Linked DNA regions of Homo sapiens. The protein of the gene in region 3 purifies or fractionates together with the protein of the main gene of each other region. This does not show direct contact. Each region holds a gene or a part of one and is shown on either strand. Other genes may lie near its edges.

Region 1 (3,737 bases), on a different chromosome or scaffold from region 3:
TCTACTAAAAATACAAAAAAAAAAAAAAATTATCCGGGTGTGGTGGTGGGCGCCTGTAATCCCAGCTACTCTGGAGACTGAGGCAGAAATTTCTTGAGCCCAGAAGGCAGATGTTGCAGTGAGCAGAGATCACACCACTGCACTCTAGCCTGGGTGACAGAGTGAGATTCTGTCTTAAAAAACAAAAAAACAAATGGAATCATCAGGCAGAGGTGCATCTAGGTGGTAACATCACAAGTAGTTGTTGTTATTTATTAAGTATCTTCTGGAATAACATTAATCTTTGGTCTCATATTTGAGAAAAATAGTGTCATCAAAATACAATAAACTGACATACAATTTTTTTTTTTGAGACGGATGCTCACTCTGTCACCCAGGCTGGAGTGCAATGGCACAATCTTGGCTCACCGTAACCTCCGCCTCCTGGGTTCAAGTGATTCTTTTGCCTTAGCCTCCCGAGTAGCTGGGATTACAGGCATGTGCCACCACAGCTAGCTAATTTTTGTATTTTTAGTAGAGACAGGGTTTCACCATGTTGGCCAGGCTGCTCTTGAACTCCTGACCTCAGATGATCTGCCTGCCTAGGCCTCTCAAAGTGCTGAGATTACAGGCGTGAGCCACTGCACCCGGCTGACTAATACATTTTAAACAATTTTTGAAACAGTTTTAATAAGAAATCTAACCCATGTAAAGCTACTGCTAAAGCCTTTTGGCTGAGGTAGTAACTAATGAGGCTCTGTAAAATATACAGGTGCATTAGGGTAAAAAAGTCTACCTCTATTGAGCCATGAGTCCAAAATCTTAAATAATAAAAAAAAGTCTGGCCGGGCGCGGTGGTTCACACCTGTAATCCCAGCACTTTGGGAGGCCGAGGCAGGCGGATCATCTGAGGTCAGGAGTTTGGGACCAGCCTGGCCAGCATGGTGAAACCCCGTCTCTACTAAAAACACAAAAATCAGCCGGGCATGGTGGCACGCACCTGTAGTCCCAGCTACTTGGGAGGCTGAGGCAGGAGAACCGTCTGAACCCGGGAGGCAGAGGTTGCAGTGAGCCAAGATCGTGCCATTGCATTCCAGCTAGGGTGACAGAGTGAGACTCCATCTCAAAAAAAAAAAAAAAAGGTCTATCTCATCTGAGGAAATGTTGGGGTTTATTTCTACATTATTAGAGACATATTTTATATTAATATTCAAGAACACTTACATAATTTTGCCATATACGCAAATATCTTGAGCTTGAAAAGTATGATGAAAATCCTTAACTGTCTACTAAAATTATTTTTTTGACCATCATTTAATTTCATACAAAAATCAAAGTGCCACAGTCCTTCAAAGACATCAGAGTGACAATATCAAAGATTTTTCTAAGCTGATATTTTACATCTGAAAGGTCCAGACAATTATTTGTGCATGTACCCACACAATTTAACAACTTGCAAAGTGATCATACCTCTTCAATACCAGCTATATTATTCACAGCCAGTTTTTTTAGAGAACTCTGAAGCTTTTTGTCATCAGCTGTGGCTGTTCTATGTACCACCTTCTTCTTTCTGCGAGCTGTACCCTGAAAAATAACCAAACAGAAGCAGAAGTGTTAGCATGCCTGGCATCTGGCAACTGCAATCACATCTTACGTATCACAATAATCTAAAACCCACATTAAAAAATGGACAAAATAATAATGATTAATGTTATAAGACTTCTCAGAGGTTGTGATTGTCAGCCTAACGCAGATTTCTAAAGGTTGGTTCTAGCCAGTTCCTTTTTTTTCCTTATCAGCTTTTTCAGGTTGAATTATTCTTATCTAATATCCAGCCTTTGTCATTTCAACACAAGATACTGTTTGCTAATAAAACATAATTTATAACTTCAAGACAATTTAAATACTTTATAACAATTTTAAAACATTATCTTTTCTTATAGTAACTACCACCCCCTGCCAGTAGTCTAAAGATATTCTGAAATTTGGGGAATTAGGACATAACTGAAAATTAATGTCTACATTACAGTAGGAGGAAAAAAATCAATAAATATATAAACAAATCAGATAATTTCAAATGGGATTAAGTACTATTAAGAAAAAAGCAAAACTAGAGCACAGCAAGAATGACTAAGTAGGGGCAAAGCAATACTTTATTAGAAGGTCCAGGAAAGCCCCCTCTGAAGAGGTAACATATGAGTTGAGACCCATAACTAGGGCAAGAATGATCAAAGCAGAATGAAACAAGGTTGAACTTGTCCTTTCTAGAAGAGAGAAAATGGGCCAGTATGGCTAGAGCAGAGTGAATAATGGGAACGGAAGAGGAATATGAAATCAGAAAGATAGGCAAGGACCAGATTATGTAGCCTAGAATGCCATGGGCAGGAGCTAGATTTTATTGATTGCAATGGGAAGCCATTGAAAGGTTTTAAGCATGGGAGTGACTTGATCTGATTACTTATGACTGAAGTTGCTATGTAGAAAATGGATTATAAAGAGACCAGTCAGGAGGCTCCTGTAGCCGTCCTGGCCAGAGATGAGGGATATGGCAGTGAAGATGGTGAGGGGTCAGATTCTCACAAGAGACCACATGACTTTGCTGATGGATTACACGTGGGATATGAGAAAAAGAGGACATTTGGATGATGCTTAGAATCTTGGCCTGAGCAAACAGGTTGAAAATTATACTAGTTACTGAGAAAGAAAAAGTTCATTTCTAAATTGATACTGTGAAACTCTAAATACATTTTTCCATTGAAATACTATTTAAAATAATGGATTCCTGGATCAGTTTATTAAGTCTTGAGGGTTAAATCTTTCTAAAACTGGTAGGAGTAAGGAGAAAGGAATAGTGGTTTCAATCTCTGGGTAGCTCCTATAGTAGTACTCAGGGAATCAGCCTTATAGAGGTAAGGTAGGGGCTTCAGTCTCAGCAATTCCGGTGGGAGTGGAGGAGAGATCTGACAGCAGAGGATGCCTTGAAATCTAGTTGCTGAAGGACTGACTATTTACATAGGCACTCATTTGTGAAGCATTCCTGACTCAGGGATAGCTCAACTGCTTGGTGCTTGTTCAACTCGAATGATCCTCAGGCACCTCAAATTCAATATGTCTTAAAGCTTATCAGTCCACCAATCTATTCTTATTTCCTAACTTTTGTAGCTGGTGGTACCACCATATACTCAAGTCTCTAAAATCATGAATCTGAGGGTTATCCTAGATTCTTCTGCATGCCCTTTACCCCCCATATCCCATCAGTCACTAAATCGTGTCAATTCCAACTCCTAAATTTGTATCCCATATAATAGAGGTCCCCAACCCCCAGGCCACTGACCAGTACCAGTCTGTGACCTGTTAGGAACACGGCAGCACAGCAGAAGGTGGGGTAGGGGGCATGAGCGAGCATTACTGCTTGGGCTCCACAGCCAGTCAGATCAGCGGCAGCATTAGATTCTCATAGGAGGGCGAACCGTTGTGAGCTGCGTATGCGAGGAAACTAGGATGCGCACTCCTCATGAGAATCTAACTAATGCCTGATGATCTAAGGTGGAACAGTTTTATCCCAAAACCATCATCCTCCCATCCGTGGAAAAACTGTCTTCCACGAAACCAGTCCCTGGTGCCAAAAAGATTGCGGACTGCTGCCTTAGACTCTAGCAATAGCGTCTCAATTGTTCGCCTATAGGCCAAACTTCCATTTTGTTCCATTTTCCACAACGCCAGCAGCTACCTTTCTAAAATGGCAGTCATTTCCTTCT
Region 2 (3,500 bases), on a different chromosome or scaffold from region 3:
TTTAGGAAAAATTAATCTGGCTACAATGGAGTCAAGAATAGGAAGAAACTGCCTTGTAAATAATTCCGTTTTCTAACAGACTAAGGTGAAAGTTAAAAGCATAGTAAGAGCTAAAGATGACAGTAAAGGACACTTAAAGGTCTCAACATTAGTCTAGTGAGGGGAGGTCTGGTGCGGTGGCTCACGCCTGTAATCCCAGCACTTTGGGAGGCCAAGGTGGGCAGATCACCTGAGGTCAGGAGTTCGAGACCAGCCTAGCTAACATGGTTAAACCCCATTTCTACTAAAAATACAAAAAAATTAGCCAGGGACAGTGGCGCGCACCTGTAATCCCAGTGCACCTGTAGTCCCAGCTACTCGGGAGGTTGAGGCAGGAGAATCGCTTGAACCCGGGAGGCGGAGGTTGCAGTGGACCGAGATCACACCATTGCGCTCCAGCTTGAGCAAGAAGAGCAAAACTCTGGCTCAAAAAAAGGAAAGTCTAGCGAGGGGAAGTGAAGGAGGTGGTCATAACTATGAGACCACATTAAGCCCCAGAAGCAAAAATTTTAAATGTTACAGAATTAAGACAAAAAGAAGCAGTTAAAAGATTTGGCAATTAGGTCACTAGCGACCTCAGAAGAGATTTGTTATAGTGTTGACAGTGCAGATCAGACAGTGGATTTCTTTCTAAAAGTATAGGGAAAAGAAGAAATCGTTAGAAAAAGATGCAGAGATTCTGGAGGATAAAGCATTTTTATCTCGATGGAGGATAAAGCACTGCAGACTAATGAAAAAGCCAGAAGAGGGAAGTCGGTGAAGAGAAACATAGAAATTCTTCTAGTCATTACCAGATAAGCACACACTAAGTTTACCATACCAGGTGGTGGCAGCAAATTCATTATGTTTGGTCCATATAAACAGACAGTTTAAGAATTGCAGCTGCTATTAACTGAGCACCTACTATTGGCCAGCTGCATACCCTGTATTATTTTTAGTCCTCACCTCAACAATCTCAGGAAACCAGGCATTACCATACTCATTTGTTAACTGACTGAACTACAGCTCAGATGTTACATGACTTGCCTGATATCGCAAACTGGTAAATACTGGAGCAAAATTGTTTTTAATAGTTATATTAAAGCATAATGTACGTGTAGTAAAATTTACTTATTTTAAGTGAAAGATTTGATAAATGTATTAAATGTATATACTTCTGCAACAATCACCACAATCCAGTTTTATATAACACTCTATCACCCCAAAACTCCCTTCATGAGCAGGGCAGATTTAAGCCTGAATCTGTATGACTCCAACTCATGTCATGCTACAATGAGAAAAATGGCTTTTTTTGGCAGAAAATCTGCAAAATTAAGTCGTTACCCTTCCAATCTTCTCTTAGTACTCACTAGTTCCCTTTCCATGTGAGGCCCTCATATATCTCTAGAACCATACTCACATATCATGATCTCACCAAATTCACGAGTTTACTGTAATTTGGAAACATACCCCCTAAAAGGACAGTATAATCAGACTTTTATATAGGATGCTATTACAGATACTGTGCTCTTTTTTTAAAAAAAGCAAAAGGAGTTAGGAAAAGGAAAGACAAATGAACAGGTAAGTCCAGGAGGAAGACTGAATGAAAACAGAAGAGTAAGGTCCTTGAAAAAGGAAAATGTGATATACAAATAAAGAAAACATGAAATAACAGAAGTCAGGAGTCTGTGTCATGGAAGAGAGACTAACTGGAACAGAAGCTTCTCTTCCATAAGCAATGTAAAACCGTACAGAGACATAGGATGGAATGACTTCCTAGGCAGGAGTTAACACTTATTTGGCTAAGAAACAGGACTATACAATAATAAGACAGACAAAAATCAAAATAAAGTGAGACAATATTCATAGTAAAGTTATAAAGCTAAAACTTGTTAAATTTTATAATCATGATTTTCCTATAACTAATTAAAACAAGTGCAAATTTTTCTTTAGGTAAAAAAACAAGCAGGCTGGGCGCGGTGGCTCACGACCATAATCCCAGCACTTTGGGAGGCCAAGGCAGGCAGATCACCTGAGGTCAGGAGTTCAAGACCAGGCTGACCAACATGGAGAAACCCCGTCTATACTAAAAATACAAAATCAGCCCGGCGTGGTGGCACATGCCTGTAATCCCAGCTACGCAGGAGAAACGCTTGAAACCAGGAGGTAGGGGCTGCGGTGAGCCCTGATCACACCATTGCACTCCAACCTAGGCAACAAGAGCAAAACTCTGTATCCAAAAAAAAAAAAAGAATTATAGACATATAAGAATTCAGGCCTGGTGCAGTGGTTCACATCTGTAATCCCAGCACTTTGGGAGGCTTAGGCAGGTAGATAACCTGAGGTCGGGAGTTCAAGACCAGCCTCACCAACATGTAGAAACCCCATCTCTACTAAAAATACAAAATTAGCCAGGCGTGGCGGCTCATGCCTGCAATCCAAGCTACTCAGGAGGCTGAGGCAGGAGAATCACTTGAACCCGGGAGGCGGAGGTTGCGTTGAGCCGAGATTGCACCATTGCACTCCAGCCTGGGCAACAAGAGAGAAACTCTGTCTCAAAACAAAACAAAACAAAACAAAAACAAAAAAAAAAACAAGCAAATATAGAATTATAAATATATAAGAATTCAGGCCTGGTGCGGTGGCTCACACCTGTAATCCCAGCACTTTGGGAGGCCCAGGCAGGTGGATCACCTGAGTTCAGGAGTTCAAAACCAGCTGGCCAACACGGTGAAACCCTGTCTCTATTAAAAATACAAAAATTAGCCAGGTGTGGTGGTGCACACTTGTAATCCCAGCTACACAGGAGGCTGAGGCAGGAGAATTGCTTCAAGTTGAACCCAGGAGGCGGAGGTTGCAGTGAGCTGAGATCATGCCATTGCACTCTGGTCTAGGCAACACAGCAAGACTCCGTCTCAAAAAAAAAAAAAAAAAAAAGAATTCAGATACCATATCAGGGCCAGAAATAATTAAAATGATTAAAATAAGATATGACAAGCCTGGAACGAAAAAAAGTACAAATCTAAACAGGAGGATAAAATAAAATTTTCATTTAACTTATATTTTCACTTCCACCCAAACCTTTCCTTAGTTCTATAGAACTAGAAACACAATTCACTAAGTCTAGATGAAATGCTCTTCCAAGCAGAGCCAAAGAAACTGCTAGCCCATAATTAACAGAACACATATTTTATGACTATCTAATATATAACAGGTGTTGTAATATCCAATTTGTTAAATCAGTCCCCTGATTATTACCCTGAACACTCTGTCTAGTCCAACTTGATATTCCAAGAAACACTATTCTTCCTAGGAAAAAGACATACCTCTTTGAAATGAATGATTATAAAACTGTTCCAGTATTAGAAGAGAAGTCATTTTTTAATGTTAAGTAACAAAACCCAAAAATTTAGTTGTCAATTCTTACACTAGTAAGTCCAGAGATGGTATCCAGGTGACTACGGCAGAGAGTAATATACACA
Region 3 (3,062 bases):
GAGGTGGGGCATCTGGGAGGTGATTAGGTTATGAGGGTGGGGTCCTCATAAATGGGATTAGTGTCCTTATAAAAGAAACCCAAGAGACTACCATGTGGGGACTCATAGCAGGCACCATTTATGAGGAATGGGCCCTCGCCAGACACCAAATCTGCTGGCACCTTGATCTTGAACTTCCCAGTATCCAGGAACTATGAGCAACAAATTTCTGTTGTTTATAAATTACCTAGTCTAAGGCAATTTGTTGTAAGAGCCTGATCAGATTAAGACAGACCCCTGATCAGATTGACAGACCCCTACCTCAAAACCTATATAAAAATTGACTTGTTTATGTATGGGGAAAAAATAAACTTAAAATGGACCAAATAGCTGAAAGTAAGAGCTAAATCTATGTCTCCTTGAAGAAACCATAGCTGTACATATTTGTGCCCTTGGATTAGGCAGTGCTATTTTACATATGACACCAAAGCATAAAGAAAGAAAAAAATAGATAAATTAGACTGCAGCAAAATGAAAAACGTGTGCGTCAAAGGACACTGTCAAGAAAGTGAGACAACCCACAAAATGAGAGAAAAGATTTGCAAATTACACATAAGGGTCTAGTATCTAGAATACATAAAGGACTCTTATAAAAAATAAAGACAAATAACCTAATTTAAAAATGACCAAAGGATCTGAACAGATATTTTTCCACACAAGATATGTAACTGGATAATAAGCACATGAAAAGATGTTCAACACCATTAGTCACTAGGGAAATGTAAATCAAAACCTCAAATCAAAATTTCTCACCGAATAGGATGGGTATAAGACAATAACAAGTGCTAGCAAGAATGTGGAGAAATCGGAATCCTCACACAGTATTGGTGGGGATGTAAAATGGTGTAGCTGCTTTGGAAAACAGTCTGGTAGTTCCTCATAAGTTAAACATGGAATTACCACATGACCTAGCATATGGTAATTCCACTCCTAGGTATATACTCAAGAGAAATGAAAACATGTCTACACAAAAACACACATTTATAGCAGCATTCTTCATAATAACCAAAAAGTAGAAACAACCCAAAAATCTATGAACAGATGAACCAACATGAACAGAAAACCAACATGTAATATATCCGTACAATGCCTATTATTCAGCCACAGAAAAGGAATGAAGCACTGATTGATGCTACAGCATGGATAAAACTTGAAAACATGCTCAGTGAAAGAAGCCACACACAAAAGACCACATATTGTGTGATTCAATTTATTTATTTATTTATTTTTGAGACAGGGTCTTACTTTGTCACATAGGCTAGAGTGCAGTGGCACGATCTCAGTTCACTGCAGCCTCGACCTCCCAGGTTGAAGTGATCCTCCTGCCTCAGCTCCCCCAAGCAGCTGGGATTACAGGTGTGCAGCACCATGCCCCGCTAATTTTTGCATTTTTTGTAGAGACAGGATTTCGCCATGTTGCCCAGGCTGGTCTCGAACTCCTGAGCCTAAGTGATCCGCCTGCCTTGGCCTCCCAAAGTGCTGGGATTACAGGCGTGAGCCACTGTGCCCGGCCTGTGTGATTCCATTTGTATAAAATGTTCAGAATAAGCAATTCTAGAGACAAAAAGTAGACTGTGGTTGCCAGGGGCTAAATGTTTATGTTCCTCCAAATTCATATGAAATTCTAACTCCCAAGGTAATAGTGTTAGGACATGGGGCCTTTGGGAGGTGATTAGGTCATGAGGGTGCTGCCCTCACTGGAATGGGATTAGTGCCTTCATGAAAGAGCCCCACGGGAGCCTGTCTTCCCCTTCTGCCACATGAGGACTGAGAAGTAGGCAGTCTGTGACCTGGAAGAGGGGCCTCACTGGAACCCAACCATGCTGGCACCTTGAACTCAGACTTCCTAGCCTCTAGAACTGTGAGAAATAAACTCCTGTTGTTTATAAACTACCTAGTCTCTAGCATTTTATATTAGCAGCCTGAACAGACTAAAACACGAAGTACCTCATTGGATGTAGCAAATATTAAGAAACTGAGGATTTTTGTCGTCTTGTAACCCTCCTCCCTAACGTGCTCACTGTATCTTGTATTCACATCACCAGGCTTGGCCAAAATGTCACTGTCATTCAGGCTTAGAGATCACAGGACTGTGTAGAACAAGGCCAGCAGTTACACAAGTATCACACCAGAGAAAGGGAAATAGATTTGAGGATCTAAAGTACAAGCAACATCACAGAGGAGGACAAAGATATAAGATATAGGGTGGGTTTTTATTTCTACCAGGCCCCTCTAAACAGAGGAGCATTTTAAGCAATGAAACTCAGCCATAGCTTGCATGGAAGTTCATCTGTGGCCATATTTGGATCTGTCTTTTCTATAAGAAGTTCTGAAACGGACAGAAAAGTAGGTACAACCCTGTCATGCACTGGATTCTTAAATTTTCATTAACAGAAAACGATAAAAACATACTTACTTGTAGTATCACCACCATCCTAATTAGTGAAATTTGTTTAGTGAATAATCATCTACTATTATATATAACATTTAAAAAAACACACACATGTGGTCTATGCCTTTGCAGAACCATGAGATACATTGATGGAGATAAAGGGCTGATGAGAGGGAGAGAAAAGGCAGAGTGTTTACCTGTCCCAGCCAATTTGGGGGTTGGTTCTTGGAGGAGTGGGGATTTCTCCCAATGATGGGGGCTCAGCCGGTCATAAGCTCCTGCCTGGGAAGGCTCTGCTGGAGAGCTCTCCCTGAGATCTCTCCTAGGAGTCTGCGGTTGAAAGTCTGGCAGTTCCTGTTCTCCAAGCTGAGATCCAGTTTTCTCCAAGAGCACCTTTTGCCCCTGCATACAAACGGCCACCTAGGAACAAGCCCCATCCATTAATTCCATCCATCAGGACTGAGGGAAGCTTGATCTCTCACTGTTGTATAATGACCCGTTTACCTTGGGAATTGCTGATAACCATCTAGAGGTCAACTTTCATAGAAACCACTGAAACCCTCAAAGGAAGTAAAGGGGAGAACGTGAAGAATGACAGGAATGAGGATGCTACAAATCAGCCGAGTGGCTT

Evidence for each region.
Region 1: the proteins of ZNF174 (region 3) and BTF3L4 purify together in Homo sapiens (affinity purification with mass spectrometry; one large-scale study listed by BioGRID and IntAct). This does not show direct contact.
Region 2: the proteins of ZNF174 (region 3) and ZMYM2 purify together in Homo sapiens (affinity purification with mass spectrometry; one large-scale study listed by BioGRID and IntAct). This does not show direct contact.

Annotation. Positions count from the first base shown.
Region 1 is NC_000001.11:52,062,651-52,066,387, reverse strand, and holds part of BTF3L4 (transcription factor BTF3 homolog 4), read right to left. Parts: intron 1,564-3,737; coding exon 1,450-1,563; intron 1-1,449.
Region 2 is NC_000013.11:19,965,227-19,968,726, reverse strand, and holds part of ZMYM2 (zinc finger MYM-type protein 2), read right to left. Parts: coding exon of another isoform or gene 3,446-3,500; intron 439-3,445; exon of another isoform or gene 325-438; intron 1-324. UniProt on the Homo sapiens protein: Involved in the negative regulation of transcription.
Region 3 is NC_000016.10:3,404,215-3,407,276, reverse strand, and holds part of ZNF174 (zinc finger protein 174), read right to left. Parts: intron 2,852-3,062; coding exon 2,629-2,851; coding exon of another isoform or gene 2,504-2,628; exon of another isoform or gene 2,369-2,503; coding exon of another isoform or gene 2,289-2,368; exon of another isoform or gene 1,236-2,288; intron 1-1,235. UniProt on the Homo sapiens protein: Transcriptional repressor.